7 linked regions of the Homo sapiens genome follow. The protein of the gene in region 6 interacts with the protein of the main gene of each other region in a biochemical or structural test. Each region holds a gene or a part of one and is shown on either strand. Other genes may lie near its edges. The genes, in order: REPS2, FASLG, WAS, CSF3R, MAP2, GRB2 and MET.

The links.
Region 1: the proteins of GRB2 (region 6) and REPS2 form a complex in vitro, tested with the Homo sapiens proteins (2 studies listed by BioGRID and IntAct, with this or other methods).
Region 2: the proteins of GRB2 (region 6) and FASLG form a complex in vitro, tested with the Homo sapiens proteins (2 studies listed by BioGRID).
Region 3: the proteins of GRB2 (region 6) and WAS form a complex in vitro, tested with the Homo sapiens proteins (2 studies listed by BioGRID).
Region 4: the proteins of GRB2 (region 6) and CSF3R form a complex in vitro, tested with the Homo sapiens proteins (2 studies listed by BioGRID, with this or other methods).
Region 5: the proteins of GRB2 (region 6) and MAP2 form a complex in vitro, tested with the Homo sapiens proteins (3 studies listed by BioGRID and IntAct).
Region 7: the proteins of GRB2 (region 6) and MET form a complex in vitro, tested with the Homo sapiens proteins (3 studies listed by BioGRID and IntAct, with this or other methods).

The regions. Positions count from the first base shown.
Region 1 is NC_000023.11:17,022,675-17,027,062, reverse strand, and holds part of REPS2 (ralBP1-associated Eps domain-containing protein 2), read right to left. Parts: intron 2,005-4,388; coding exon 1,878-2,004; intron 1-1,877. UniProt on the Homo sapiens protein: Involved in ligand-dependent receptor mediated endocytosis of the EGF and insulin receptors as part of the Ral signaling pathway. By controlling growth factor receptors endocytosis may regulate cell survival.
Region 2 is NC_000001.11:172,664,346-172,667,870, reverse strand, and holds the end of FASLG (tumor necrosis factor ligand superfamily member 6), read right to left. Parts: coding exon 3,481-3,525; intron 2,250-3,480; coding exon 1,855-2,249; 3' UTR 995-1,854; downstream 1-994. UniProt on the Homo sapiens protein: Cytokine that binds to TNFRSF6/FAS, a receptor that transduces the apoptotic signal into cells. Involved in cytotoxic T-cell-mediated apoptosis, natural killer cell-mediated apoptosis and in T-cell development.
Region 3 is NC_000023.11:48,681,685-48,686,598, forward strand, and holds the start of WAS (actin nucleation-promoting factor WAS), read left to right. Parts: upstream 1-2,114; 5' UTR 2,115-2,169; coding exon 2,170-2,301; intron 2,302-2,598; coding exon 2,599-2,739; intron 2,740-3,862; coding exon 3,863-3,949; intron 3,950-4,049; coding exon 4,050-4,152; intron 4,153-4,261; coding exon 4,262-4,303; intron 4,304-4,396; coding exon 4,397-4,450; intron 4,451-4,914. UniProt on the Homo sapiens protein: Effector protein for Rho-type GTPases that regulates actin filament reorganization via its interaction with the Arp2/3 complex. Important for efficient actin polymerization. Possible regulator of lymphocyte and platelet function.
Region 4 is NC_000001.11:36,472,488-36,476,875, forward strand, and holds part of CSF3R (granulocyte colony-stimulating factor receptor isoform a precursor), read right to left. Parts: intron 3,187-4,388; coding exon 2,890-3,186; intron 1,401-2,889; coding exon 1,277-1,400; intron 1,136-1,276; coding exon 948-1,135; intron 200-947; coding exon 30-199; intron 1-29. UniProt on the Homo sapiens protein: Receptor for granulocyte colony-stimulating factor (CSF3), essential for granulocytic maturation. Plays a crucial role in the proliferation, differentiation and survival of cells along the neutrophilic lineage.
Region 5 is NC_000002.12:209,689,080-209,693,467, reverse strand, and holds part of MAP2 (microtubule-associated protein 2), read right to left. Parts: intron 2,866-4,388; coding exon of another isoform or gene 2,620-2,865; intron 844-2,619; coding exon 1-843. UniProt on the Homo sapiens protein: The exact function of MAP2 is unknown but MAPs may stabilize the microtubules against depolymerization. They also seem to have a stiffening effect on microtubules.
Region 6 is NC_000017.11:75,325,040-75,329,427, reverse strand, and holds part of GRB2 (growth factor receptor-bound protein 2), read left to right. Parts: intron 1-3,407; coding exon 3,408-3,530; intron 3,531-4,388. UniProt on the Homo sapiens protein: Non-enzymatic adapter protein that plays a pivotal role in precisely regulated signaling cascades from cell surface receptors to cellular responses, including signaling transduction and gene expression.
Region 7 is NC_000007.14:116,695,308-116,699,695, forward strand, and holds part of MET (hepatocyte growth factor receptor isoform b preproprotein), read left to right. Parts: intron 1-442; exon of another isoform or gene 443-449; coding exon of another isoform or gene 450-492; intron 493-3,763; coding exon of another isoform or gene 3,764-3,777; coding exon 3,778-4,388. UniProt on the Homo sapiens protein: Receptor tyrosine kinase that transduces signals from the extracellular matrix into the cytoplasm by binding to hepatocyte growth factor/HGF ligand. Regulates many physiological processes including proliferation, scattering, morphogenesis and survival.

The sequences.
Region 1 (4,388 bases), on a different chromosome or scaffold from region 6:
CAGTACTTTGGGAGGACAAGGAGAGCGGATCGCTTGAGTCCAGGGGTTCGAGACCAGCCTGGGCAACATGGCGAAATCCCATCTCTACAAAAAAATACAAAAAGAAAATTAGCCCGGTGTGGTGGCACATGTCTGTAATCCCACCAACTCAGGAGGCTGAGGTGGGAGGATCACCTAAACCTAGGAGATCAAGGCTACAGTGAGCCATGATCGCGCCAGTGCACTCCAGCCTGAGTGACAAAGTGAGAACCTGTCTCAAAAATGAACAAATAAAACGGGTACATTTTATCATATGTATATTTTACCTCACTTTTAAAAAAGTATGAAAAGAAATGAAGGCATGGACAGCTTTGGCACAGGCTGCTGAGAGTCAAGAAAGATGGAGAGAAGCAAGCTGCTTCCTTACCACTGGGGAAATGGAAGCCCAATTTGTATGGAATGAGGAGGGAATGGGGCATTAAGGAGGAGGAACAGAAAAGTTTTCTAAGGAATACCAAAGGTAGAACTTGCTGACAGGCTGACTCAGTAGAACAAAAAGTTTCACCTGTGAATTAAAAACCAACTTCCAAACCCAAGTAAGATTAGAAATAGGAAAAAAAAAAAAAAAACCCACTCCTGAAAATAGGGAAATCAGATCAGGGAAACTATAAGAGGAAAATGAAGAATTCTCAACTCCATTTAGTTTCTAACCCCACTGAGATATTCAAGTTACAGGACAGTGATTTTTTTGTTACTATCCATTAGCAACATCATCTTGCATGTGCATAGGACTTAATTTCCAAACAGATTTTATACTCACATTCTCACTTAATCTTCTAATACCCCTCTAGGATACTGTTACTCCATTTTAAGAGAGAAGAGGTAATCGTGGTTCAGAGATGTTCAATGGCCTGCCCAAAGTCCTACAGCTAGTCACAGAAACCCACACACCTTCTGCTTCCAATCAAAAGCTATTGCCATTATGCCACGCCTGCTTCTCTCTGCAAGATTACAGCCTCTCTTTATTCAGCCTAGCGCGCAGTTTTATTTCTGTGTCCCTCTAAAAGTCACCACTATTTTTAATGCAGTAAAAACCTGCAGAAACTGGGTCATTTGGGGCCACAGCCCACAAAACAAAACTGGGGGGGTGGGGGTTTACAGATATCCAGTTCTAGAATACCTTTAATTGGTCATATCTTAAACTAGGAGTCTGAACCCCAGGAGGCACAAGATGCTGCAGTGAATTTCCAGTGCTTTAGGCACTGCAGCCTAAACAGCCAACTCTGCAAGTCATCCTCAGAACTAACGTATTTTACCACCTAACGAGGCCAGCAGAGCATAAATGTGAGCAAGAAGGCAACCCCACAACTGTGCATGCTACATACCCCTCAGCAAAATGCTACCCCTAGCATTTCCTTTATCCTTATTCCAAAGCACAGGACCTATATATTTTCATTTACGTGCTCAGTCTTCAAAGGTTGGATCAACTCTTTTGCTTTTGCAGTTATATTTCTTAAGAAATTTCATTAAAGCAGTTACTATATAAATATCTTTGGTGTGCTTACAGAAAGGAATAACAATTCCAAAAAAAATACAAGCCCTTAATATGGTATGTTCTATTCAATAAAATCTGTATATGAAAGATTAAATCATCTAGCTGTTTACAAGTCTAAAGACGAACTAGTTTCTAGGACAGGAGATGAAACATTACTCAAATATGTTTAAATCAATTTTTAAAAAAAAACCTTGCTTGAGAATATAAAATTAAATTGAGCCATGTTTCCAAAGACAGGGGTAATTAAATCAGGAAATTAAGCAGCTTGAAGCGTTACCGCCTGGTAAATTAAGGAGTCTCTAAGACACTGCCTGGGACAGCTGGCCCCCAGGTCGCCTCTTACCTGGATGCATCTGTTCTGCGCTGCTCCGCAGTTTGCTGTAGCCATGGCTCAAGGGCACCCTCTGGTAATGAGGCGGGGAAGAAGGAGGGGAGGCGAGGGGTGACATCGTGGGAGACTGTGTTTCCTGCTTCAAAGAACCAGATCAGAGTTCAGAGGCGCTCACTCAAGCCTGGCGTTCTGAGCTGCAGTCAGGAAGCATAACGCAACTCTACTGCTGGTGACCCAGCTGGTTTAACAAATGGGGGGAAATGTTTTCTCAAAAATGCAGCATGGTTAAACAGCAGTGTCTGAGGATTCAAAAAGTCTCCCAGAGAATAAAATCTCATCAGTGCTGAGTTACCTAAATTACTAAAACCAGCCTGAAACACTTTTGGTTATTCCAATAATATTTTCCTTTGGAAAATGAAAGACACTGATCACATGAAATAACATTCATACCCGCTCCCAATTGTGATCTCTCTGTGGATAGATTTCATTTTCATTCATTAATAAATTTATTTCCTGGATTTATACTTATCAAGTCTTCCAGCAAATGTGAATATTAAAATATATATTTCTAAATGCTTAATACTTAATATTCTTGGAGCTTACCATGTCAAAGTAAAATGCTAGCTTTTTTTTTTTAACAATGAGAGACTGCAAAACAATTCATTATAGGTAAACCATTCCAACCAGCTTACTCCCAAACACTAAGATGAAATCTTAACAAGCTACAATTTGAATCTCAATTCAAATATGAACCTGATGTAGAACCCTAGGCAAAGTAAGCAACCTTATCTGCTGCTGAGTTTCCTCTTTAAAAAAAAAAAAAAAAAAAAAAAACTTTACTAGTAGACTGGTAACTTTGGAGTATTCAAGTACCAAGAAAACAGTGCTTTTTTTTGTTTGTTTGTTTGTTTGAGACAGGGTCTCGCTCTGTCACCCAGGCTGGGGCACAGTGGCGTGATCATAGCTCACTGCAGCCTTGACTTCCTGGGCTCAAGCAATCCTCCCACCTCAGCACCCCCAGTAGCTACTACAGGCATGCGCCACCACACACAGCTAATTTTTTTTTTTTTTTTTTGAAATGAGGTCTTGCTATGTTGCCCAGGCTGGTCTTGAATTCTTGGGCTCAAGCAATCCTCCTGCTTCGGCCTCCCCAACTGCTGGGATTACAGGCATGAGCCACTACACCCAGCCAAAACAATGCTTTCTATCAACACACAGACTATATATATAGGCTCCCTTAGTCTAAAGAGAAATATGTAATCTGAAATACTGATCAAATACTCTTCTTCAAGAAAAAGCAAAATATGTTTGCTCTAAAGCATGAGCTCACACCCATAGATTGGGTGGGGCATGCATAAACTCAGCCTGAAGTGAAAGGATGTATTCTCATTCACACAATCAGGGACTGGGCCTGGAAATTTCCCAGGGCATCAACCACCGTGGGACAGTGGACCCTCATTCCTCTCCAAATGCTGGTGGGAAAATATGCCAAAGAATATTGACTGAAAATTCCTATACCTCTTCCTTTTTAAATATATCCCTGAAGAACTGATTTAAAATGTGTCAGAATTATGAAAGTGACAGTACATGGAATTGTTTAACAGGATGTGCTACACCTCCCCTAACTATCCATATAAAACTTCTGTAGCAACACCTCATCTACACAACATCACAGGGTAAGTCACAGAAGTTAGTTTTCCAACATAATCATTTAATATTCATTGCATTTTAAAAACATTTTCATTCGAGTGTTCCTTTTTTTTTTTTTTTGAGACACAGTCTTGCTCTGTGGCCCAGGCTGGAGTGCAGTGATGTGATCTCGGCTCACTGCAATCTCCGCCTCCCGGATTCAAGCCATTCTCCTGCCTCAGCCTTCCAAGTAGCTGGGACTACAGGCACATGCCACCACGCCCGGCTAATTTTTGTATTTCTAGTAGAGACAGGGTTTTGCCATGTTGGCCAGGCTGCTCTTGAACTCCTGACCTCTTGTGATCCACCCGCCTTGGCCTCCCAAAGTGCTGGGATTACAGGCGTGAGCCACCGTGCCCAGCCTCAAGTGTTCCTATAATAAATTTCTTTACCTTATAGAAGACACTATGTTGAACATAATTTGACTTCTCTGCATGATTCAGTATCTTTGCTGGAAGTATGAGCTATACCTTGATGCCTGCAGGGTACACCAATGTGTAGACTATTTACTTCTTCTGGATCTGCCCACTCTTCTGAGATTTTATACTGTTGTCTCCACCAATCATCATCTGACCATTGCAATTAGTGGTCTAATTTTAAAAGCCTATCCTCCCTGTTCTGGTTCCAAACCTGCTAAATGGGTAATGGCAGCATTTCCCAAGATAGTATTCCAAATATGTTCCCCAAGAAAGAATTTCCTGGTGAAAGAAGTTTAGTAAACACACATTTCCAGGTCTCTTCACTGCAGAACTTCTCAGGGCTTTTACCGTGCTAATGTGCACTACGAATTTCCAAGACTGAGGATTTAGTCCTTCCCTCAACAAGGGAATATGA
Region 2 (3,525 bases), on a different chromosome or scaffold from region 6:
AAACTAAAACTAGGCAGCCTGTTTGTGTAATTTTTGTCCAGCAACATCCAGCTTCTGGGATGACAGCTTAAAGAAAATAGGATTTTTGCAAGGGGAATACATTGGAGGAAGAGAGTATTTTGGAGTTGAGAGTCTTTCCAAGGTGCTGGTTGTCATGACAGATGATGACATTTATGCTGGACATAGAGAGAAGTGAAGACGTGGAAGGAGCTGATGTGTATATAAGAAAATAATAAAGTTTATTAATTAGAAGTCTCAATATTTTCAAAAATATTTTAGAAAAGAAAATGTTGGACCAATTCCGCTGGAATAATAGAAGATGATGTTGTGAAAATAAGACACCTAAAATCAAATTCCAAAGGAGTTACTATAATTTTTAATGATAACAAAGTCTAGGGAGAGCCCATGATAGTGAGTGGTTGAAGAAAATAGGAAAAGGCCGTTGTGAATGACAAGCATGAGAATACAAGAAACCAGGTGCTTAGATGGATCCCACAGATCAGTGGCCTCTGGAGAATGAAGTGGCTCTAATAGAGTGGCTTAGTAGTGGCAGACACTATTTTTTGATGTTCTATGTGTCTGATACTTTCAGCTCTTTTTTTGTTCAAGGAAGGTCAAGTGACCTAACCAGTGCTTACATAGGCAGTACGTGGAAGAACAAAGATTCAAATCTAAGTTTTTTAGTCCAAAATATGTGCCCTTTCCACTGTGCCATGGTTCTGCCTTCAGGAAAATATAATTTCTCATCAAATCTATGGAAAGTTGGCTAAGCTTAACATTGGTCATAATATTGGTAATGGAAACTCTGGGAGGTGAAGAGGAAAGAGAATATATAGAGAGAAGGAAGGCCTAGCAAAGGCAGAAAGATTTGATTCATAGTTCTTCTCACTCCAGTAAATTATTCTTAAAAGTGGTCTGATATCATAATGAATGAAGAAATCAAGGAGGAAAGAAATAATAAGCAAAAAATTCAAATATTAGTAAATTCTAAAAATTATTTGTATCCTAACATATACTTTTTATTACATGTTTTCATTTCACAAAAATGCACATCTACATAAATATTTATTATATTATAGGAAAACATCATTAGTAGCTGACAATCAATGATTTTTAAGCACTATTAGAGTTGATTGTCAGGAAGCATTCAAAATCTTGACCAAATGCAACCCATATTTTCCTAATATGTACTTCACAATATCTACATTCTCTCTTTAGTCATACACACACACACACACACACACACACACACACCCCTACAATTGCACTGGAAATACACATGCTGTGTTAGGAATGAAATGAGTCCCCAAAACATCTCTCTTGCTTATCTGTTAGTTTCACCGATGGCTCAGGATATGCATTTAGAAGTGAAGATGCTGCCAGTGGGGCATTGGCCTCTTTCAGCCTCTTTAGCTTATTATGCAAGCCTCTAGTCTTCCTTTTCCATCCCTTAAATCCTCAGGTCACAACCATGTATCTGAAAGACAGTCCCCCTTGAGGTAGCAAGGCCCACCTTGAGAGGTGAGTTAAAAGGTGTCCTTTTCAATCTGCCTAAATACTCTCAGGCACTAAGATGAGTGTAGAACACCTGGTAGCTGCTTTTTCATGCTTCTCCCTCTTCACATGGCAGCCCAGAGTTCTATGTTCTTCCGTCATATTCCTCCATTTGTCTGGCTCATAAACATTAGGTGAGTTGAGGAGCTACAGACATTTTGAACCCTGTGGTCTCAAGGTCCACTTGGTTCATGTCTTCTTACTTGACCTCAAATGCATGTAAGAAGACCCTCACTGAATACAACATTCTCGGTGCCTGTAACAAAGAATCATAATGGAAAGAATCCCAAAGTGCTTCTCTTAGAGCTTATATAAGCCGAAAAACGTCTGAGATTCCTCAAAATTGACCAGAGAGAGCTCAGATACGTTGACATATAAATGATCAGCACTGGTAAGATTGAACACTGCCCCCAGGTAGCTGCTGCGGGCCCACATCTGCCCAGTAGTGCAGTAGCTCATCATCTTCCCCTCCATCATCACCAGATCCTGGGGATACTTAGAGTTCCTCATGTAGACCTTGTGGCTCAGGGGCAGGTTGTTGCAAGATTGACCCCGGAAGTATACTTTGGAATATACAAAGTACAGCCCAGTTTCATTGATCACAAGGCCACCCTTCTTATACTTCACTCCAGAAAGCAGGACAATTCCATAGGTGTCTTCCCATTCCAGAGGCATGGACCTTGAGTTGGACTTGCCTGAAATAAATCCAAAAGGAGCTTTCAACAAGGAATAGTCATGCATCCAACAAACTAAGTTTCTAAGGCAAAACTGTGGGCCCTTCCTTCAACAAATGTTTCACCCAGAATGACAGCTGGTATAGAACTGGCTGAGGGGTCAGAACTTGATCCATCACAGAATTTCCTCAACAACGTTGTCCTATTTTGTCATCCACACAATTGGAACAATAGTATATACCCGTAATCCATTGCAGTAAGAAATTATTGAGAAAATATTTGCTCTCTGGAACAAAGATTTTACTATCTTCAGAACTAGCACCAAATCTGCTAGGCTTTGAAGTCCTTTCCTGAAGGAAAAAGCCAAATCCAAGGAACTCTAAAGTTCTAAAGTTGGGAAGGATCTTAGGGACCATCTGGTCCATCTTCTCACCTGCAGTAAGAATTATTCAGCCCCTCAATTTGGGGTACAGTTCCCTTTTCTTTGTATCCCCACAACATCATGAACATAACCTAAATCTCTGAAGTACTGAAATTATCATAAGTGCCTGTCTTTCCCTATTAGATGTCAAGCTCCCTGGGGGCAAGAGCCATGTGCTACTCATCTTCACATCCCCAAATTGGCACACAGCAGGTATTCAGTAAGTGTCTGCTGATGTGACCGGATCATTCTATAATTTCTGCCTAAATAATTCCAGGGACAATAGCCTACCACTTTCTGTGATATTTATTCCATTATTTATGTAGTTTATAATGGGAGTGCCCATACCATATCATTTCACTCCACTTTACAGGCACATATTGAAACTCTACAAGTGCCAGGATTGAGTCTCCCTTCTCACTCCTATTTATACTCTTGGACAAAGCAGAGTGAAGCTCTTCCAGAAAACCAAGAAAGCACTGACTAAAATAAGTCCTCATTCCTCACCTTCTCATCTCTCACCTCTTGGATCTGTGCCCCCAATCCCCCAAGGGACTTTGGAATGACTGAAAAGAATGAGCTTCTTATGGGCAGGGGTCATGTCATAATCAGCTCCAGGTCTCCAATTTAGAAGAGGGCCTTGCCCAGAGAATAGGGGATCAAAGTGTGTTCATAAGACTGACTCGACAAGAAAAGTGTTAGTATTATTGGGTTCAAATACTGTCTCCAGGAAGTAACAACTCTCTAGAGCCTGGTAATGGAAACCAGGCAGCCATTTTGCCTTTTGCCAAAAGCTTTCCCAAATCTCACCTGTACCTTCCAGATACAGACCTGTTAAATGGGCCACTTTCCTCAGCTCCTTTTTTTCAGGGGGTG
Region 3 (4,914 bases), on a different chromosome or scaffold from region 6:
CAATGGCCTTGAAGGCCACATCGGGGCTTGCCCTGATCAGCAGGTTGGAGGTGCTCCAGGCCCGAAGCTTAGCTGTGAGTGGGGACACGGGAGGGAGGTTGGAACTGCCACTGCAGAAGGGGTTCTGAACCTAGGTTCAGGAGAGAGGCTTTGAACCTGCACGTGTGGGAAGCCATGGAAGTTTCCAGGAAGGACTGCAGGTCCCAACTGGAGATGTGCCGTTCCTCCTTCAGGTACCTGGGAATGTCAGTCACACCCCAGACCTGCTCAGCTCCCCCAAACTGCTGTTCCTGTATCTGAGAGCTTCAAGTCTCCAAATGGCCTACCTCATACATGGGGAAACTGAGGCCTGGGGAGGCCGGGGACTGAGCTAGCATTCACTTGTGGAAATAGTCTGGCATCATCTGGAGAAGTTAGAGACATGCAAACCCTACAGCCCTCAGATTCCCGTCTGAGAGTCTGCATGCCTATGTGGACCAGGAGATGTGTGCGGGAGTGAACACTGCAGTGTTGCTCCCAACAGCAAGAACCAGAAGCAGCCCAAAGGGCTGTTACAGGAGAATATGGACACCCAGGCTGCACATGCACACCATGGAATGCTGTATGGCAGTGGAAATAAATGAACAGCTACCACTATAGGCAAACAGGAATCACAGCAACAGCCAAGAGTGAAGGCGTGGAGGGACGAGACCATGCACTCACACCTGGCCTGCCTGGCTCGCACTCCGGGCAAAGGGGTCAGAACAGTGACTGGCACACACGTTAAGTGCTATGTGAGTGTTAAGATAAAACTAGGATGTCCAGTGGGGAGAAAGCAAGCCTTTGAAGATTATGTGCTTTTACAAACTTCAAGTGCAATGAAAACTAAACAAGATGTTGTTCAGGCATTCATATATGATATAAAGTTCCTTTCTTTAAAAAAGGGATGGGCTGGGCACGGTGGCTCACGCCTGTAATTCTAATACTTTGGGAGGCCGAGGCAGGTGGATCACGAGGTCGAGAAATCGAGACCATCCTGGCCAACATGGTGAAACCCTGTCTCTACTAAAAATACAAAAAAATTAGCTGGGCGTGGTGGCGTGTGCCTGTAGTCCCAGCTACTTGGGAGGCTGAGGCAGGAGAGTCACTTGAACCCGGGAGGCAAAGGTTGCAGTGAGCCGAGATCGTGCCACCGCACTCCAGCCTGGCGACAGAGTGAGACTCCATCTCAAAAAAAAAAAGAAAAAAAAAAGTATGACAAGCAGAAAGTAATTTGGGAGCTGCGGGGAGGCAAGGGTAAGGGATGGGGAAGTGGACCAGAGGCATATGCGTCATTGGCAGTGTCTAAGCACTCACGATAGGCGTGGATCACAGGGGCTCGCTCTGTAATTAAAAGGAAAAGGGTTTTTGTTGTGTTGTTGTTGTTGCTGTTTTTGAGACAAGGGTCTTGCTCTGTCATCATCCAGGCTGGAGTGCAGTGGTGCAGTCTCAGCTCACTGCAACCTCCGCCTCCTGGGTTCAAGCGATTCTCCTGCCTCAGCCTCCTGAGCAGCTAGGACTACAGGTGTGTGCCACCATGCCTGGCTAATTTTTGTATTTTTTAGTGGAAATGGGGTTTTGCCATGTTGCCCAGGCTCGTCTTGAACTCCTGACCTCAAGTGATCCACTCGTCTCGGCCTCCCAAAGTGCTGGGATTACAGGTGTGAGCTATTGTCCCCAGCCAAAAGGAAAAGTTTTACTGTAGTAACCCTTCCGGACTAGGGACCTCGGGCCTCAGCCTCAGGCTACCTAGGTGCTTTAGAAAGGAGGCCACCCAGGCCCATGACTACTCCTTGCCACAGGGAGCCCTGCACACAGATGTGCTAAGCTCTCGCTGCCAGCCAGAGGGAGGAGGGTCTGAGCCAGTCAGAAGGAGATGGGCCCCAGAGAGTAAGAAAGGGGGAGGAGGACCCAAGCTGATCCAAAAGGTGGGTCTAAGCAGTCAAGTGGAGGAGGGTTCCAATCTGATGGCGGAGGGCCCAAGCTCAGCCTAACGAGGAGGCCAGGCCCACCAAGGGGCCCCTGGAGGACTTGTTTCCCTTGTCCCTTGTGGTTTTTTGCATTTCCTGTTCCCTTGCTGCTCATTGCGGAAGTTCCTCTTCTTACCCTGCACCCAGAGCCTCGCCAGAGAAGACAAGGGCAGAAAGCACCATGAGTGGGGGCCCAATGGGAGGAAGGCCCGGGGGCCGAGGAGCACCAGCGGTTCAGCAGAACATACCCTCCACCCTCCTCCAGGACCACGAGAACCAGCGACTCTTTGAGATGCTTGGACGAAAATGCTTGGTGAGCTGGGGATCTCCTGCCCCCGCCCCGTCCCCACCGTTTCTTCCTCTTCCTCTCCTCCTTCTCTCTCTTCCCCTCCTCCCGCTCCTCCTTTCCCTCTCCATCATCTCCTCTCCTAGAATTTCCCGTCATAATCCACCCTTCCCAGGAAGATCTCAATGTCTACTTGCCTTCCCTCTGGCTGCAGCTCTTCCTTTGGGCCCATGACTGTCATGAGGCAGGAAGGACCAGGTCTGGCTCCAAGACCTTGTGGCTACCCCTGACCAGACTCCACTGACCCCTGCTTTCCTCTCCCAGACGCTGGCCACTGCAGTTGTTCAGCTGTACCTGGCGCTGCCCCCTGGAGCTGAGCACTGGACCAAGGAGCATTGTGGGGCTGTGTGCTTCGTGAAGGATAACCCCCAGAAGTCCTACTTCATCCGCCTTTACGGCCTTCAGGTGACCCCCCCACCCCCGACTGGACTTGCAAGCCAGTTCTCAACCCGCAAACCCAGATCTGTGTCCATATGTGTCCATAGCTTCAAGACCTCAGACCTGATCAGTGAATCCCTGAGCCCCAGAACCAAAGACTCATCCAGATGGCAAACTCTGACTTGCCTTTCTAAGTCTGCAATGACTGGCCCCAGTCTCCGTATCAAGATCTCTAAAGCCCCCAGTATTAGTCTGCTGCCTAAGCCTAATCTTTTCCACAAATTCCAATAAATGAGCACTGTATTTGTACCTGAACCTCAAATCTATTCTAAACTCAACATTTTGCATCCCAGGAATCTCTCATCAAAACTCCTGAACCCCAGATGTTTGCCAAGCTCCTAAGTCATAAATCTGTTCAACAAACCCCAAAGTTGAATATTCCATTGATCCTTGAACTCCAAATCTGTCCTTCTAAATCCACAGCACAGACCCCAGAGTTCCCATATTAAAATTCCTGAACACTCAAATACCGAGGTAGTTCTTAAGCAAAAAGTCTTTTCCACAATCCCCTGACCTGAACTTTCTAGGTTTAAGCCCCAAATTCATCCTTTTAAACCCATAAAGATGGACCCAGCATAACTTCCAGATCCCAAGGCTATCAAATATCCACCAAACTCCTAAACCATAACTCTCTCCACAAACCCCAAATTGCACTTACTTTAGCTGGACTCCCCGCGAAACTCCCAAGTCTATGTGTCTGAACTTCAAATCTCAACTCCAACCCCCAAATACTAGAATCCTACCTGTCATGAATTGGGGCTGGGGTGGTGGGGGAGGGCATGGATTGAATCTGTGAATGAGCCTCAACTTCCTAAGACTAGAGTCCTAAATTATGAAATTCAAGCCCCCAAGTCCCAGATCTAGGGCCCCAAACCCCAAATCCAAACCTCTCACAAAAGTGTATGGCTCCCAGACTATACCCCACAATCCACACCCTTAGACACCAACTCTCTGGTGCTGAGCTGAAAATCTCCAAACCAGACTATGAGGCTCCCAAATCCAGACACCCTGCTCCCTGCCCAGCTAACAAAAGCCTGCCACCCCCGGCGTGCCTCAGTGCCACTGTGCCTCCCACCCTACACCTCTCCAGGCTGGTCGGCTGCTCTGGGAACAGGAGCTGTACTCACAGCTTGTCTACTCCACCCCCACCCCCTTCTTCCACACCTTCGCTGGAGATGTAAGTGATCAACCAGCCCTCGGGCCTCACTTGGGGTGTGGAGAGGAGATGGGAAAGTTGCGGGGGACCTGGGAGGCGGCTGACCCCAAGGTATGTGCAGGACTGCCAAGCGGGGCTGAACTTTGCAGACGAGGACGAGGCCCAGGCCTTCCGGGCCCTCGTGCAGGAGAAGATACAAAAAAGGAATCAGAGGCAAAGTGGAGGTGAGGAGGCCACAGGGGAGGAAAGGAAGTTGGGCAGAGGTGAGTGCAAGCCTGGGGAACTAGAAAAGTCCCCTCTCATGGTCCTGGCTCCCAATCCATCTATCCACAGACAGACGCCAGCTACCCCCACCACCAACACCAGCCAATGAAGGTGAGTCCTCTAGTGCAAGTAGGGGTAATAAGGGGCTAGCCCAGGAACCTGTGGCAGGGCTGTGATAACTCTCTACACATTCCATCTTCCCAGAGAGAAGAGGAGGGCTCCCACCCCTGCCCCTGCATCCAGGTGGAGACCAAGGAGGTGCGTGCTGATTCTTCCCTGTGTCTCTGGATGGATGGGTAAGAGTGGATGGAGGAATGAGGAGTTGGATGGGTGCGTAAGTGGGTGAATGGATAGGTAGATTGATAGGTATGTGGATGGACGAGCAGGTGCATGGATGTGTGGACTGATGGATGGGTGGATGGATTGGCGGTAGATGGCTGAGTAGAGGGATGAATTGATGGGAGGATGAAAGTCTAAGTAGATAGATGCATAGGTGAATGGGTATGTGGATAAATGAATGAAAAGGTAGATGGATGACTGAGTAAATTAATCAATGAGTGAATGAATGAACAGTGAATAAATGACTAAATGACAAGTTTCAGTCAGTGAAGAAAGCATGATTGAATGAATAAATGAGTAAATGAATATTTTAACAAATTCATTAGTCAATGAGCCAGTGAATGATAAAGCATGAGGGAATGAAAACATGAATGAATCAGTGA
Region 4 (4,388 bases), on a different chromosome or scaffold from region 6:
CAGGCTCTCCAGGTTGCCCTCTGCCTCACCAGTGCCCAGCTGGCTTCTCCACGCTGCGGCTTGTGGCGCAGCTCACACTTCTGATTTATGTGCAGGCCTGGCTGCCATGGCTCCCAGCACAGCTGTAGGCAGCCTGCCTGGGGAGGGGCCGCTTCAGGGCTGGGGTCCATGGTCCGCAGCATGGGGGGCTCCAGTTTCACTGCAAGGAGTGGGGCTGTCAGAAGGTCTCCCTATCCCACCCTAGAGGGCTCTGCCTTAGCTCCCTCTTGTCTCCCTGTCTGTGGTTCACCATCTGTCCACGTTGCCAATGACACGTTTCTGTGGTTCGATCTCTATGTGTCTTTGTTTCTCTCTAGGTCTCTGTTTCCGCTCTTGCCCCAGGGCCTTTGCACTGGTTGTTACTTCTGCTTGAAATGTTTTCCCTCCAGATATCCAGCGGCTTGCTCCCTCATTTCCTTCAAGGATCTGCTCAATTGTCACCCTCTTAGTGAGGCCTTTCTTGACCAGCATATTAAAATAGCCAGTGCTCCCCTTCCCCCCTCTCTCTCTATGCCCTTCTCCTCCTTTAATTTCTCCTTTCTGCTTATTGCTATCTGAAATTCTATCTTATTTTCCCCCCCACTTGAATCTAACATTCTGAGGGCATTTTTGATGCTTTGTATCCCCAGTACCTAGAGCAGTGCCTAACATGTAGTGGGTGCTTTAGGAAACACGCTGAAAGCATGACTGAATGTGTCTCTTTGCCTCTGTGTCTCTTCCTGTCTCTGGGTCTGTGTCCCCATTTCTCTGTCTCCAGCTGCACCTTTCTTTGTCTCTGTCCCTCTTCTGTGCCTCTGTCTCTAGGTCTTCCAGTGTCTTCTTGTCTGTCGCTAGTTCTGTGTTTCCCTCTCCATTCCTCTCAGTGTCTGCCCATTTTGGGGATCCCCTCCCTCCCCTGCATCACCCACCAACATCCATGGGATCAAGACACAGTTGTGGGGACATGCTGGTCCCCAGCGCATTCTCTGCCTGCACCCAGATGCCCATATTCTGGTACAACAGCAGGTGTTTGCGTGGGATGCAGCAGTGGCTCTGCCCGTCCTTGGGCACGCAGTCCAGGATGGAGTCCCCTTGGGTCTGACAGTTGCCCCGGCTCCTGCCAATAGTCCAGGCTTGGGTGCCAAGCAGAGGAAGAAAGCGAGGCTCCCTTCTCCCTCCCAGAGGCATGCCCAGCATCCTACCCATGCCCTACCCCAGAATCCAAAGGGAGGGGACCAAGGTGGGGGCCCCTCCTCACTTGAAACTCTTCAGAGTGAAGCTGGTGGGTAGGTGGGTCTCAGGTCCTGGCTCCCACTGGCAGATGAGGCTGCTGGTTGTGAGGTTCATGAGGCAGGAGAGGTTGTGGGGTATGGCTGGAGGGTCTGCATGTGGGTGGGAAGAGTGTGAGGGCTTTGGGTGGGACCACTCAGAAAGCTTCCTCTGGGACCAGCTGGCCCTGTTGCCTTGCCCTGGCTTGGTTCCTCTGTTGTCACCTTGTCTGTCCCCCTGTCTCCAGGCAGAGTGGCTCTGGAAGGGCAGCCCTGGGGGAAGCTAAGTTGCAGGCATGCACCGGGGCAAGCATCACAGACTCCCAGCAGCCCAGTGGTGGCCCACTTCCAAGGCCCCCAACTCTAGACCCTTTGTCAGTGACAGTGTAGTGTTTGAGTTTTCATCCTGGTCCTGCCATTCATTAGCCCTGTGATCTTGAAGTTATTTAACTGCTCCATGCCTCAGCATCCTCATCTGTAAAATGGGGATAATGGTAAAATCCCACCCCCTAGCGTTATCACAAGGGCTAAATGACTCACTCTACATGAAGTGCTCAGAACAGTGCCTAACTTACAGGAAATGCTATGTAAGTGTTAGCAGTGGCCATTACTGGTGCTTTTTTTTTTTTTTTTTTTTTTTTTGAGACAGAGTCTCACTCTGTGGCCCAGGCTGGAGTGCAGTGGCGTGATCTCGGCTCACTCGGCTAATTTTTGTATTTTTAGTAGAGACGGGGTTTCCCCATGTTGGCCAGGCTGTTCTCAAACTCCTGACCTCAAATGATCCACCTACCTCAGGCTCCCAAAGTGCTGGGATTACAGGTGTGAGCCACTGCACCTGGCCCATTACTGATTCTTAAACAAGAACCTCGGTCTTTGTTTTTTCCTTATGCCTCAGCTTGGCACAAACTCCATCCTGCTCAGTTTGAAAGGAAGTTTGAAACTGGGGTGGGGGACAAGCCCAGCTGGTAGAGGATGTTCTCCCTGGAGACACCCTCAGATGGCTGAGGACTTGGGCTATGTAGAGTAGTGGTCACAACACTGGCTTTAGAGCCACACTGCCTCCATCCTTATTAATGTGTGATAAGGGCAAGTCACTTACCCTCCCTGAACCTCAGTTTCATCATCTGCAAAGTGAGGCTACATAGTAGTACCAACTGGTACTACTGTTACCTGATATCATGCCCATAAAGTGCTTATTAGATAAGAGCTCAATAGGTAGTACTCTTTTTTTTTTTTCTTCTTTTTTTTGAGACCAAGTTTCGCTTTTGTTGCCCAGGCTGGAGTGCAGTGGTGTGATCTCAGCTCATTGCAACCTCCGCTTCCTGGGTTCGAGCAGTTCTCCTGCCTCAGCCCCCCGAGTAGCTGGGATTACAGGCACCCGCCACTATGCCTGGCTAATTTTTTTGTATTTTTAGTAGAGGCGGGGTTTCGCCTTGCTGGCCAGGCTGATCATGAACTCCTGACCTCAGGTGATCCGCCTGCCTCGGCCTCCCAAAGTGCTGGGAATACAGGCGTGAGCCAACGTGCCCGGCTGGTAATATTCTTATTAGTATTGGCAGGAGGGTGTTGGAGGCAGAGTAGTTGGATGGCTGGAAGGACTTACAGCCTGCGCGCAGCTCAACCTGGTCCAGGATCTGCAGGCTGTTGCCCCAGTTCAGGCAGCAGGAGAGAAAGGCCTGAGTGTGGTTGAGGTGGGGCAGGGTGATGATAGATTCCTGGGTCCCATCAGACAGACGCTGCTGCCTGCCCCCGGGCTGAAGCTCTGCTCCCAGTCTCCACAGAATCTGTGGCTCCGGGTCCAGATGGCTGCAGTTCTGCTTGATGATGCAGGAGGCTGTGATGGGATCCCCCAGGTGGACGATGGGGGCTGAGACACTGATGTGCCCGCACTCCTCCAGACCTGGGGTGGAAGAGAATGGGCCAGGAACGACGCCTCTGCCTAGCAGAGCTGGGCTATAATCTAGGCCTTTGTACTCCTAGACTCAGAGGCCTCACCTTCCTGTCTCACCCTTCAAGATATGGGGGCTGGAAATGGAAGGATGGGGACGGAGACTTCGAGAGGCTACGGGGGTGACACAGAGATAGTGATGTGCTGGTAACCGTTTATCAGCCAGCTTGGCAGAGAAAAGCAGACCCTGGTTTGTAGTGTGTGCCTTTCCGCGGTGTAAGTGCTCTCACTGTAGCTGATTTCAGCCTATTGATGTGACATCATTGATCGGGGAGTTGGGAAGAGATGTGCACAATTAGTTTTTGCAAGCCAGCACCAGCACACCACCAGATGGAGACTGTTAACTCCCCAGTGCCCTCCCCAAGGATGGTGCAAGCAGTGATTAGAGTGATAAGAACCCATAGCCACAGCAATCTTTTCACAATTCAAATCTGATTCTGCTACCCCATCTCCATCGCAGCACTTCAATGGCACATTATTGCTCTGAAAGGCAGTGTGGTGTGATGGATGAGTGTGGATGTTGGAACTAGACTGCCTAGGTTTAAATTCTGGTTCTATTGCTTATTAATTACATGATCCTGGTATATTTCTAAGACTTCCTGTGCCTCAGTTTTCTCATCTGTAAAATGGGGATAAAAATCGTCCCTACCTTAGTGTTGCTGGAAGGATTACATGCGATAACATATGGAAGGCATTTAGAGCAGTGTCTGGCATGTGAGTATTTGCTGCCATCATTAGGATAAACACTCAAATCCTTCAATAGCTCCTGTGGCCTGGCCCCTGCCTGACCCTCTCAGTTCCAGCTTATACCGGTCTCTCAGCTCCAGCTATTCTGGCTCATTCTTGCTATTCTTTGAAAACTCCAAAATCTTTCTAATCTCTGGATCTTTGTCCCTGCTGTTTTTTTTTTTTTGTTGTTGTTGTTTTGTTTTGGTTTTCTTTTTCTTTTCTTTTTTTTCTTCAAGTTCTTGCTCTGTCACTCAGGCTGGAGTGCAGTGGCACGATCACGGCTCAGTGCACCCTTGACCTCCTAGGCTCAAGTGATCTTCCCACCTCAGCCTCCTGAGTAGCTGGGACTACAGGTTCATGCCAGCACACCTTGCTAATTTTTTGATTTTTTTTTTTTTTGGTAGAGATGGGGTTTCACTATGTTG
Region 5 (4,388 bases), on a different chromosome or scaffold from region 6:
GTTCCTGTCCACTGGGGGTGAAAGTATCCCTTTGCTGCACAGTCTCTTGATTTATGGCCTCCTTTTCTTCCTCTAAAACTTTCCCCATAACATGTTCTTCTACAACTGGAATGTGAGCATCTTTGGGTAAGGTCATTGCCTCTGAGGGTGGTGCTTCTGCCATTTTGTCAGGTTTAGCCTCATGGGGCTCTTCAATTTTAAAACTATCTTTGGCAGTAGCTGGGCCACTGGTTTGTTGCAGAGATTTTTTGTCATCTGGCTGTAAAAAGGCAGGGGCAAAGGGCGATGTTTCTGTAACTATTTCATTCTTCATGACATCTAAAGGAAGAGTGAAGCTTCCCCCTTGAAAGGGACTTGGCATGGGAGAATCAAACTGTTTCCCTTCCCATTTTGGGATATCATCAAATACATCTTTTTCCCTCATGGGAGTCAGAGGGCCAGGAGATATGGGGGCAACTAAACCCCACTCATCCTTTTTTGCTTCCGTTGGCATTTCGATGAACCAGTCCTTTTGTTCTTTTGGAGTTGGAGGCTCTTTAGGGAGGTCAATGCCAGGTACTACAAGGCTTGGTTCTGTCTTCTGTTTCATGTCTTCCAGGCTGGCAACAAGAGTGTGCCCAAACAAAGCTAGGGGTGCTTTTTCTTCTTCCGTGCCTTGCATGTCCTTTTTATCAGGGTAAGTTTTAGTTGTCTCTGGCTGAGAAACTAAGGCAGCATGTTTAAGGTCTTCACCAGGCTTACTTTGCTTCTCTGACTCCTTTTCCTTCTGGTCTGAAGGCTCAGCTGTAGAGGGAGTCAATTCCTGTTGATCGTGGAACTCCATCTTCGAGGCTGTAAGTAAATCTGAAGTAATCGGGTTGATTTTTAAACAAATAATAGGCAAGTGCGTTCAGGAAATAAGCTTAAAATTATATTTTGAAGTGATAAATGAATGGTAGAATAAAAACAAAAATTATGGAACATGCAAGCATGCTACCCATGTAAAAGTCAATATGAAAAGGTCAGGACTGAGATATATGTGTACTATTACTAAAATGAACTCTGGTTGTAAATTAATGTGCAAAGGAATTGTAAGAACAGTATATTTCTGGATATTCTTTTCTCTTTTTTTCTTTGTTTTTTTTTTTTTTGGTCTCTCCTAAACATTATGTGATGTGTATTACAGAAGAAACAAATTCATGTGCCTTCTATACATAAAAGTTATAAGCTAATGAATATTGAGTAAGCAGCTAATGTTAGGGTACAAAAGAATATATAGTAAGGACTAAATATAGATAAAGAATTGATTTATACTGAACATTTTCATTGGTTTTATCATTTAAAAATGAATTGGTAGGCTATGGGCAGAGGGCCAAGTAATGCACAATGATATAATGTTAATAGTTGCAGTTAACTTGATTAACAAATGTCAGGGCCAATTCTTTAGGCATCCACAGGTTACTGGCATAAATTTTTAGAATTCATCTGAGGATAAATTTCAGAAATATAAGTAAATATTTGCTATCAATTTTATATGATATGACTTAAGAATTTACAAGCCAGTTTCTATTACATATTTAAAAATTTAAATTCCTAATCATTACTTAGTCTGTACGGTAGATATAAGAAAATCTGAATTACACTGTTGATACTGGGAAGTCATGTGAGTAACAAACTTTTCAAAAGAGTCAACTATTGAAATAACTTTATTCCCATGGTCATGACCTCAATCCTTGGAGCATGACTAACTGGTGAAGCATTGGCCAGTATTGGCTTTAGAGGTGCTTCACAGAAATTAGATAACACATTTTTACTTTTATTTATTCAACAATCCAAAAGGCTTTATTGTCCCACTTGTGTTTTAAGGTCAAAGTAGTTCACTGTGGTCATTAGAGCTAAATGTAGTTATCTGGAAAAGATTTGGGGAAAAATAATAAAATTCAATCATCTCTAAAAGAGCAAGTGTATGGATCATCATTACCTTATATACTTATGTGTCCTGTTGTAACAATAGAAAAAAAAATACTTGATGAACTTCTAATAAAGGTTAGATGAATGAAAACTCAAGAGATATGGGGATGATCAGAAGGGCTGGCTGCCATGGGGAGAAAATGATATGAGAAGCATCAGCAGGAGGTCAAGAAAATCAAACCAGTATTCATTGAAGCATAAAAAATATAGCACATTTCGGTTGCAAACAAAAACGATTCCACCATTTAAGCCTCTATGTGCCAAAATCCAACTGTACGATTTGAAATAAAAGCATATGAATTGCTGTCCCCAAAATAAAAACAAAAATATACATGTATTAGCAATGTGACTGGCAAACATTTGAGATGAGGGGGGGCGGGTAAAAAAATAAAATAAAAAAAGAAGCTCACATAGCATCATCAGCCTGGCTGCAAAGCGTATTGTATCATGGCAAAGGAAAACCAGGAATCAGCTGCAGCACTGGAAAACCAGCTGCCACACAGCACTTGCGCAAGCCACACTCTCTGCACATTAAGCCTACAACAGTGGACTTGTTATCATAAGACCCAGCGATGAAATAGCGAAATAGCGTTGGAAAGGCATCAGGTTGGTAAGCCACTGGAGAGATCATTTGCAACAAAACACATGCAAATCCTGAGAAAGACACACCTTCCCCAGCAGAGGAAGGGGTTTTTACTTCTGGAGACACCTCCTTGACCTCTTTTACACTTTTCTCATGTGGGGCCCCTGCTGGGGCACTCTCTTCGGGAACTATTTGGGCCTCCGCACTAGACTCCATTTGGCCCTTACTGAGGCCCTTGGGTTGGTCTGAGGACTTAGCAGCCCCACACTCTTTCTCAGGAAGAGCAGCAGGTTTCTCTTCCTCAGCCATCCGACTCTCTAGCGTTTCTTCTTCTTAGGGATGAAAAAGATGTTGACATCATGACCACAGAACAATACATGAAACGACAGAAATATTGCTAAAGGAACACTTTCAGCTCCATTAGAATGACCTCATGAAGACCTCAGCTGTTTTTTTATTTTACCATTGGGATGAACAAATTAATATTCTAATGCAACATACATTAGGTACTGGTTGGAAAACTATGATGTATAATCTGCTAATAGTGATGACTTTTAAAGTCTCATTAAAAGGCAATTTATTTTAAAGTTTGAGAGCTGAAAGGGTTGTATTGATTGATTACCCTTATTGGAAACGGCAGTAAGTTGCACGCATGTGGAAAGCTTGCTGGAAATAAGAGATGGTACTGCCGGATAACAGATGGTTGTGAAAAGATGGATGTACTGATGTACTGAAAAAAAAAAGCCTTTAAATTTGTTAGACATGTGCTGTTTTCGCCAATGCAGGAAGCCCCTACATAAGAATTCCCGGCTGCTTTATTTAAAATGTGCAAATTTTGCTAAAGAAATCTTTGGGAATAAAAAAAGCCTTGCTTCAAAAGAATATCCAACCAACTACCTTAACAGCTTTATCACAAAGTCCACCAAATTTACTTAAAATATAATTTATTTAGCATTTCCAAGGTAAGGGACTACCTAAGTCAAGTTATGTTAGCTTCATTGCATTGTATGATGTTGGAGAAAATGAACATTTTCAAAAAGTAAGTAAAATAAAATGTGTTAAAAACAAGGTCAAGGTTAAATTTAAATCTGTTTACAAAAGTCTACCTCTGGGACACAACTATTATCATATTGTTAAACTCCCTGAAATATCAGTAATGTAGTTCATGTATAATTCTCTTTGACACTAAAGAAAAAATATGCACATTAGTAATAAAGTCTTATTTCTGTAATTCAAAACAAAATCACCAAGGAAAGATAATTGAGTGGCAATCAAACGGCCAAAATAACCACCCCCCAAACCATGTATATCACATAAAAAAGTTAACATTTAAGATGTAAAGATAAACTTTTCAAGTTCATGAGTTATTGCACTAATTTGTTTCTCATTTACACTTGAAATGTCAGTAAAAATAAGTAAATTCCATTTGGTCACTTAAGGAATTAGAGAGAAATATATGAGCTGTTTTATAGTTTTGTAAATGGAAGATTCTTACAAAATTCTTATGAAATAATTGTGCATTGTTTAAACGGCCCTGAGGGAAAGACTACAGATAAAAAGAAAAGGAATTTTCTTTTATTTTGTTTTTTAGAAATATTAATATCCTCAGAGAGAAACAGAGAGAGAAAAAAAAATCTACATTATCAATCTCTTCACATTTAGCACTCATTTTTAGTTTTGTAATTTAATTATGGCATTTTAAGTAGCATTTTAAAAATTTAAATTCTAACTTGTTATTTTAAGAAAATTTTTATAATGCCATAGATTTTGATTACAGTTAAAAGAATTTTAATATAACTGCATTATAATGTTACCTTTTTGGATAAAGTCTAATCAAGTTAATTTACATGTTTTC
Region 6 (4,388 bases):
CATGTCTATGTGACACCAGACAGAAAGGTCTGGAAACCTAAGTGTTAGAACCGCCAACACGTGCTGCCTCTGGGGAGTTTGAGGGAAGCATCTTACTTTTTATGTTTGCTTCATGTACATCTAGGCTATTTCAGTTTATATTCATTATTTTATACCTACAAATGGGAAAAAACCTCCCTAGTGGAGAGATCTTGGGGGCCTAGGAGGAAAGAGAGCCTTGCTGATTGAGAATCTTCACCCTCACCATTGCTATTGGAAGTGGCAGTGGTGGGGAGTGTGGGGCAGTGTGGGGAGAGCCAGCCGAGGCCATGTGTGGATTTTCACTGCTGTACCCAGTCAGATGCATGCTGCATACACTTATATTAGAAACCCAGGGCCCCCCGATATGAGAAGGTTTAAATACCGTTGATTGGGGCCCCCCGATTGAGAAGGTCTCAATACCGTTAAGTGTCCTTATTTATTTATTTATTTATTTATTTATTTATTTTTTGAAAGCGAGTCTCGCTTTGTCGCCCAGGCTAGAGTGCAGTGGCGCGATCTCGGCTCACTGCAAGCTCCGCCTCCCAGGTTCACTCCATTCTCCTGCCTCAGCCTCCTGAGTAACTGGGACTACAGGCACCTGCCACCACGCCTGGCTAATTTTTTGTATTTTTAGTAAAGACAGGGTTTCACCGTGTTAGCCAGGTTGGTCTCGATCTCCTGACTTTGTGACCCGCCCGCCTCGGCCTCCCAAAGTGCTGGGATTACAGGCGTGAGCCACCACACCCGGCCTATTTAATTTTTTTGAGATGGAGTTTCACTCTTGTTGCCCAGGCTGGAGTGCAATGGCACGATCTCGGCTCACCGCAACCTCTGCCTCCCGGAGATTCAAGCGATTCTCCTGCCTCAGCCTCCCGAGTAGCTGGGATTACAGGCATGCGCCACCGCGCCTTGCTAATTTTGTATTTTTAGTAGAGATGGAGTTTCTCCATGTTGGCCAGGCTGGTCTCGAACTCCTGACCTCAGATGATCCGCCCACCTCGGCCTCCCAAAGTGCTGCGATTACAGGCATTGAGCCACCGCACCCAGCCTCCTTTTTTATTTTATTTATTTATATATTTTTTTGAGACAGAGTCTCACTCTTTCGCCCAGGCTGGAGTGCGGTGGCACAGTCTCGGCTCACTACAACCTCTGCCTCCCAGGTTCAAGTGATTCTCCTGCCTCAGCCTCCCGAGTAGCTGGGATTACAGGTGCCCACCACTGTGCCCATCTAATTTTTGTATTTTTGGTAGAGAGTGGGTTTCACCACGTTGGCCAGGCTGGTCTCAAACTCCTGACCTCAAGTGATTCACCCCACCTCAGCCTCCCAAAGTGCTGCAATTACAGGCATGAGGTACCGGGCCCAGCCTGTCCTTTTATATTTAGAGAGCATTCTATTCTAGTGATATGTGATTTCTCTTGTGTGGCCTGATTTCCAGGCACTGCAGGCCCTAGCCTTGAGTTATTTGTAGAAGCAGGAGGATCTATTGTCCCAGCTCCTCAGCATCCTGGCAGTAGAGTATGCAAAATGAGAAAGACTCCAAGCAGGTAGATGTCAGACTATTCAGAGTTACTAAGAGTCCCTAGAGGCTGACACACACACACAAGGACAAAGTTACTAAGGGCAGCTTCTAAGTGTATCCTTCCTAGCAGATCACATCTTTCTGTTTGAATTTGAGTATAGTATATTATTTTAGGTACATCTTCCAATATGGTTGCTTATAAGTAAGATATGTAAATTAGCCGGGCGTGGTGGCTCGCGACTTTAATCCCAGCACTTTGGGAGGCTGAGGCGGGCAGATCTCGAGGTCGGGAGTTCAAGACCAGCCTGGCCAATATGGTGAAACCCCGTCTCTATTAAAAATACAAAAATTAGCTGGGCGTGGTGGTGGCCGCCTGTAATCCCAGCTACTAGGGAAGCTGAGGCAGGAGAATTGCTTGAACCCAGGAGGCGAAGGTTGCAGTGAGCCGAGATCGTGCCACTGCACTCCAGCCTTGATGACAGAGTGAGACTCTATCTAAAAAAAAAAGGGCCGGGCGTAGTGGCTCATGCCTGTAATCCCAGCACTTTGGGAGGCCAAGGCAGGCGGATCAACAAGGTCAGGAGATCGAGACCATCCTGGCTAACACGGTGAAACCCCATCTTTACTAAAAATACAAAATATTAGCCGGGCATGGTGGCGGGCGCCTATGTATAGTCCCAGCTGCTCAGCTACTTGGGAGGCTGAGGCAGGAGAATGGCGTGAACCCGGGAGGCAGAGCTTGCAGTGAGCGAGATCGTGCCACTGCACTCCAGCCTGGGTGACAGAGCTAGACTCCTCAAAAAAAAAAAAAAAGAAAAGATATGTAAGTTAGATTTACAACTTTAATGGACTATTTGGTCCATTAAAAGGACTTTTGATATTATAATTAGCATATTAAATGAATGCCAGTTTCCATGTTTATAGGTCTTTATTTGCTATAACTTTTGCTTTTAAAAATGATAACTAAAGACAATTTTGAGAAGAGAACATGGTTTTCACAGTTTCTTCTTCCTAATTATAGTTTTCATTTGAAATAGTGAGGCAGCTTGACTTGAAGCTCTTGTAGAAGTGTTCCTCTCCTCTTCCTCTTGATAAGCCACAGCCAGTTGCTTCACAGTTTTTCATGAATTTAGCCACTTTTTCTTCTGGCCAAGGTGAATCAGCAATTGGGAGCAGAAGAGTCTGCAACTTGCCTCAAAAATCTGAATTTTGCAGCTAGCTGCTGAGCATATGGTAAATTACAATATTCCTGGTGGCTTCTGAAAGCTGAACTCTGAGCAGTGGCCCCAGAGGCAGGCCTTGAGAGGAATGCTGACCTTAGTTACTGGTAGAGGCACCCTCATACTATCTGAACCTTTTGCCTTTGGGCTGTTAGCAAAAGTAACCCTGCCTCCAGCTCCTGGCCGTCCAGGTTTCCTCCCCACTTTCCCTTAGTCCCACTGTGGTGAAGCTGTGATCTTATCACATGGCTGCAGGAAGGGGCCAGTCTCTCCTTGGCAGTTCATCCCGTACACCAAGCCCAAAGGCCTGAGCTTTTCCCCAGGCGCCTTTGTCATGAGTCAGTAGGGAGTCCAGTGGGCTTTGGCCTGGGGGGCCCATTTTCAAATGTCTCCCTCTATAGAAAGAGTGACCCACGGTTAGTGCCTTGGTGAGTCGCTTTCTGGGAAATGGAGTAGGCTAAAGACCTTTGAAGGTCCATCTCTGGGGACCCAACCCAGTGTCGATCTTGGGCACTGTGAGGCTGGAGGATGAGGAGGGAGGCCCCTTCCTCTGGCAAGGAGTGTTGTGTTACTCACATTTTGAAGGCTGGATATCCCGTTTCTTTGTGGGGAAGCAGATGTTGACCAGCTTGCCTTCCTTCCTTAGGTGGTTTTTTGGCAAAATCCCCAGAGCCAAGGCAGAAGAAATGCTTAGCAAACAGCGGCACGATGGGGCCTTTCTTATCCGAGAGAGTGAGAGCGCTCCTGGGGACTTCTCCCTCTCTGTCAAGTAAGTATTTCCTGCTGCAGTTGCCTGGAATCCTGTCTCTGACTGATCCAAATTGTGAAGCCGTTGGTCAGGTGCCTGGCTACACACAAAATGGTGGAGGCTTAGCCTAAACAGTTTCTTCATTTCACATTAAAATCCTAATTTCTGGCTCCTCTCAAAATGAGTTCTAGAAGCACTGGATGTAGATTCCCATGTGGACACAGCCTTCAGGAGGTGAGCAGCAGCTCCCTGCAGCCAGCTGGAGCCTGCCAGTTTTCCCTAGTGCCCAGCACTCCTGAGCTTCTGCCCTCCAAGGGATTCCCGCAGCTCTCTCTAATGGGATAGTGGAGCGCCTGTCGGCTGCCTTGGCTTGCCTTGCTCAGGTCCACTGACTTAAATCAACCAGCCCCATCCTAGGCCCTCACAGTCACTTAAGAAGGCTGCTGCAGGGGATGTGGGGCTTGCATTTCCCCGGTGGAAAGTTCAGGTGTGAAAGGGAGCGGGTAAGCAGGGAATGGAGAAGACAGGAAGTTCTGCCGCCATGGAGAGTGTGGAGAATAGAAACCAGCACTTGAAGATTCTAAACAATTCACACCTCAGCTGTGAAGTCGGGATTTTGAATTAAATTGTTATTTCCATGTTTTTTACTTTCAGTTATTTTCTAGTTAATGTATTATCATAGGACCCTCCCCAGGAGTCCGGCAGATCACTTCATCAGTTATATATAAAGAAGTAATTAGATTCAACACTCAGATCACTACTTAGTTTAGATTACATTAAGATTGTTTTGTTTTTGAATGGGGGATAGAAAACCATTTTCCTTTTATTTTATTTACTTATTTTTGAGACAGAGTCTCGCTCTGTCCCCCAGGCTGGAGT
Region 7 (4,388 bases), on a different chromosome or scaffold from region 6:
CCTTTTCTTCTATCCCTTGTTATTCCCTCTACCAGCACCAAAAATTTGCTAGTACATTGCAAAACAATGAGAATTACAGATAAAATAGCAAGCATTTATATATACTCTATATTGATCAAAGTGCTTTCAGAGATGAGATCTCTTTTTGATCCTTAAAATGGTCACGTGAGAATATCTGACCCTGGGACTCAGAGGTGGGTGATTGCCTGGAGTCACACAGCTAGAGAGGGAAAGGGCTAGAATCAGAGGGCTGATTGTCTGACTTCTGTTCTAGTGCATGCTCCCACCTCGCTTTGGAAGCTGCTTCGGCATAGTGAAGCACTTAAGAGCATGGATGGGTTCTTGTTAGCCAGACGTGGAATTGAATCTTGGTTCTAACTGTGTGATTTTAGCAAGTTTGCTTATCTAGAAGAGAAGGATAATAATACTTCCTTCTTCACAGGGTGGTGATGAAGAGTAAATCAAAGAGTTTAGCAGAATGCTTCCCATATGGTAAGCACTCAATACATGTTCTTGTTATTTTTATTATTACATGGCTTTGCCTTACTGAGGCTTCATCTTGTCCTCTGGTCCAACTACAGTTCTCTAGCTTGGCTTATCCCTTCATAACCTGTACCCCCAGTGGCACGATCTTGGCTCACTACAACCTCCGCTTCCCAAGTTCAAGCAATTCTCCTGCCTCAGCCTCCCAAGTAGCTAGGATTACAGGCACCTGTCACCACACCCAGCTAATTTTTTTGTAGTAGAGATGGGGGTTCACAGTGTTGGTCAGCCTGGGTTCAAACTCCTGACCTCAAGTGATCTGCCCACCTCAGCCTCCCAAAGTGCTAGGATTACAGGCATGAACCACCGCGCTCAGCCAGGAATTTTCATTCTTTATCCTCCTTTGAGACTCGGCTCTAGCATCATTTCCAGTCGAGTTGGTCTCCCTTCCTCTGCATTCTGATAACTGTTAACCATCAAGTGACTTGAGCTTCCCAGGGAAGGGCATCATGTCTTTGTAGACATCCAATAAATGTTAGTAGAAGAAAGGGGGGTCCTGCCAATAATCATATGTCTTTCCCACAATTTAAACTCCTTTTCACCCTGTTACTACTTTTTGCTTGTCTTCCCTTTGATAAACATTCTACTTCTTCATCACCCATTCCCTCAATTTAACATCTGATACTACTATAGAAACTACTGCCTTGAAGATCAACAAACGGGTTCCATGTGGACCAACGTCCTCCTTGAGACCCTCACTTGGCTTTTGTGACACAGTGCAATATTTGCTCTCTTGATGCCTCACTGACCTTAACCTTCCTTGACTCCTGCATAGATTTCTCAACTGTGGGTATCCCCTAAGATTTAGGCCATTTGCCTTCTCTTCTTTCATCTAGTCCATTCATGAACACACCCATTCCTGGTTTTAACCATCACCTCTGTGCAGATAATGTGCAAAGTTTATTTCTAGTCGGAGTGGAGTCTCTGTTACTCTGCCAATCAAGTTCTAAATTTTTATTCCTTCTAGTGCAGCAGTGGCAAATACCTGACACTCATGTGTCTCACTCAAGACAGATACTGTTTCACCCAAGACTGATCATGCCGCTTTCCCAGTCAAGGCAGGCTTCTCAGAATCCTTCTCATTTCCGCCTCTGTTCTTTGGCACTAATGCTCTGTCTGCCCAGAGTTTTCATTCTTCACTTGTTCCAGGCACCTGCTTCCTGGTGAATAATGTAAAACCTGCTAGTCATCCTTATAGGAGAATATGCACTCATTTCCCAGCAGCACACCCGACTCAACGTGGTTAAAACCAATCTACCATTCCCATATATTCAGCCTAACTTCCCAGTGCAGTCTACCCTAGTTTTATAACTTGTTCTACTTTTTCCAGATAACTGCTAATCATCTTTGTTTGTCTTTGCTTTCTTTTTTGCACTGTGTTTGATATATTAGGGTATCAAATCCTACTTATTCAAATATGTCCCTTATTCATTCCTTCTATCCTTGGTGCTACCATATTTGTTCTGGCTCTTGTTACCTCATTATGGGATATAAAAATAGCCTGTCAACTGGTCTTTCCATTGCCAGGATCTCTCTGTTCTAAGCCACCCTGCCTCCAGATCAATCTTCCTAGAGTAAAACCTTCATTGTATGACGGTCTAGCTCAAAATTCCTTAATGATTATTAATCACCTCTTAAAGTCCCCAATTCTTAGACTATTAGTAGGGTAAAATTATTTTTGATTTGGAGTCAAAAAATTTTGGACGCAAATTTTGGCTACTACACTTAACCATTATGTAACTTCGAATTTCGGCTTAATTTTTATTCATCATTTATTCAGTATCTATTTGTTTAACACCTTCTGCATCTCAGGCTCTGTACTAGGTACTTGGGATACAATGATGAGCCAAGCAGACCTTGTCCTTGCTCTCCTGGACCTCACAACATGGTGAACTTGTCTCTATTGCTCATGATCATAATAATCCTAAGTACAGGCTGTGCTTTTTTCCCTTGATACTTGTAGCTTTTGGTTTGTGCTATGCAGGGTATTGTAATACCATTTGCAGTGCCACAATAATCAGCATATATGTGTTATCACTCAGCCACATTGCAGCTTCACTGAAGGGCAGGGGCTATGTCCCATTTCTCATAGCGCAAGCACAGTGCCCTGCACATACCAGCTGCTCAGTGATTTCTGATGTGGTTTTTGTAGATCCAGGGTTAGTCTTTGGCAGTCATGATGCCTAGTATGTTTTTAGAGGCTCCCTTTGTCCTATCAGAATTATGCTATTTAAAAAAAAGTCATACCTATTTAGTTTATATTCATTCTAAGGCCTCTCCTTTCCAACCTACTACCCTGCCTATAACTATTATAAGGAGAACTCACAATGTTTATAACTTGTGCACCTTAAGTTTTAAATACTGAATAACAGGCCCATTCATGTTTCCTCATAGAAATACTGTCTATATGCATACAATGAAATGTTAAAATAATGTTCTTTTTACTAAATAGCTTTTTGACTTGGTAATGAACAATATGTTGTTTTTCCCTGAGAAGTAGTTCTAGGACTTTAGTTCTGAAGATTATGTTGTATTTTATACATTTTCAGCCTCCTGTTTTTCAGTTCCCAGTGATCTTACATTAAACATTTGTCTGTCTAAAACAATAGGTTAACTATAGCCAAATTATAACCATACCATTCCTCTCCACACAAAATCCTATAAACAGCATGTGATCATATTGCTTCTAGAATTTATGATTGTTTTCTTCCAAAAGGAAGCTAAATTTAGCCTAGTAATTCTACATGCGCTCAAGAAAACAATGCCTGCTGTGATTTCTAGAATAAATGAATGTGAACCACAGTTCCTTTACTTGACTAACAGAGAAAGTTTAAATATCAACCTAGTCATTAACCACAGTTATTAAACCACGTTAAACAACCAGCAAGGGGTTAAGAAAGAAAGTTGCTATGTTTTTTCTTTCATTGCTGAATGAGTCTAACTTAGTTACTGTATCAACCTTAATACAGAACATTGTTTGCATCTCAATGGTTCTCTAAAATTATTCGTTCATGGCTTGAGTTCTAAAATTAAACTATGTGGAGTCATGTCCAACCGCACAATGCATCTTTATGTGAAACTTGCTAGAGTTTTTGTTTTCCTTCTATGTAAAAGTCCAGTTGGGAAGCTTTATTTCTGATAGATTAAATGGTATAGGTCTTTCAGTTTTCTCTTCATTTCTGACAACTGAACTGCTCTCGCCTTGAACCTGTTTTGGCAGATAAACCTCTCATAATGAAGGCCCCCGCTGTGCTTGCACCTGGCATCCTCGTGCTCCTGTTTACCTTGGTGCAGAGGAGCAATGGGGAGTGTAAAGAGGCACTAGCAAAGTCCGAGATGAATGTGAATATGAAGTATCAGCTTCCCAACTTCACCGCGGAAACACCCATCCAGAATGTCATTCTACATGAGCATCACATTTTCCTTGGTGCCACTAACTACATTTATGTTTTAAATGAGGAAGACCTTCAGAAGGTTGCTGAGTACAAGACTGGGCCTGTGCTGGAACACCCAGATTGTTTCCCATGTCAGGACTGCAGCAGCAAAGCCAATTTATCAGGAGGTGTTTGGAAAGATAACATCAACATGGCTCTAGTTGTCGACACCTACTATGATGATCAACTCATTAGCTGTGGCAGCGTCAACAGAGGGACCTGCCAGCGACATGTCTTTCCCCACAATCATACTGCTGACATACAGTCGGAGGTTCACTGCATATTCTCCCCACAGATAGAAGAGCCCAGCCAGTGTCCTGACTGTGTGGTGAGCGCCCTGGGAGCCAAAGTCCTTTCATCTGTAAAGGACCGGTTCATCAACTTCTTTGTAGGCAATACCATAAATTCTTC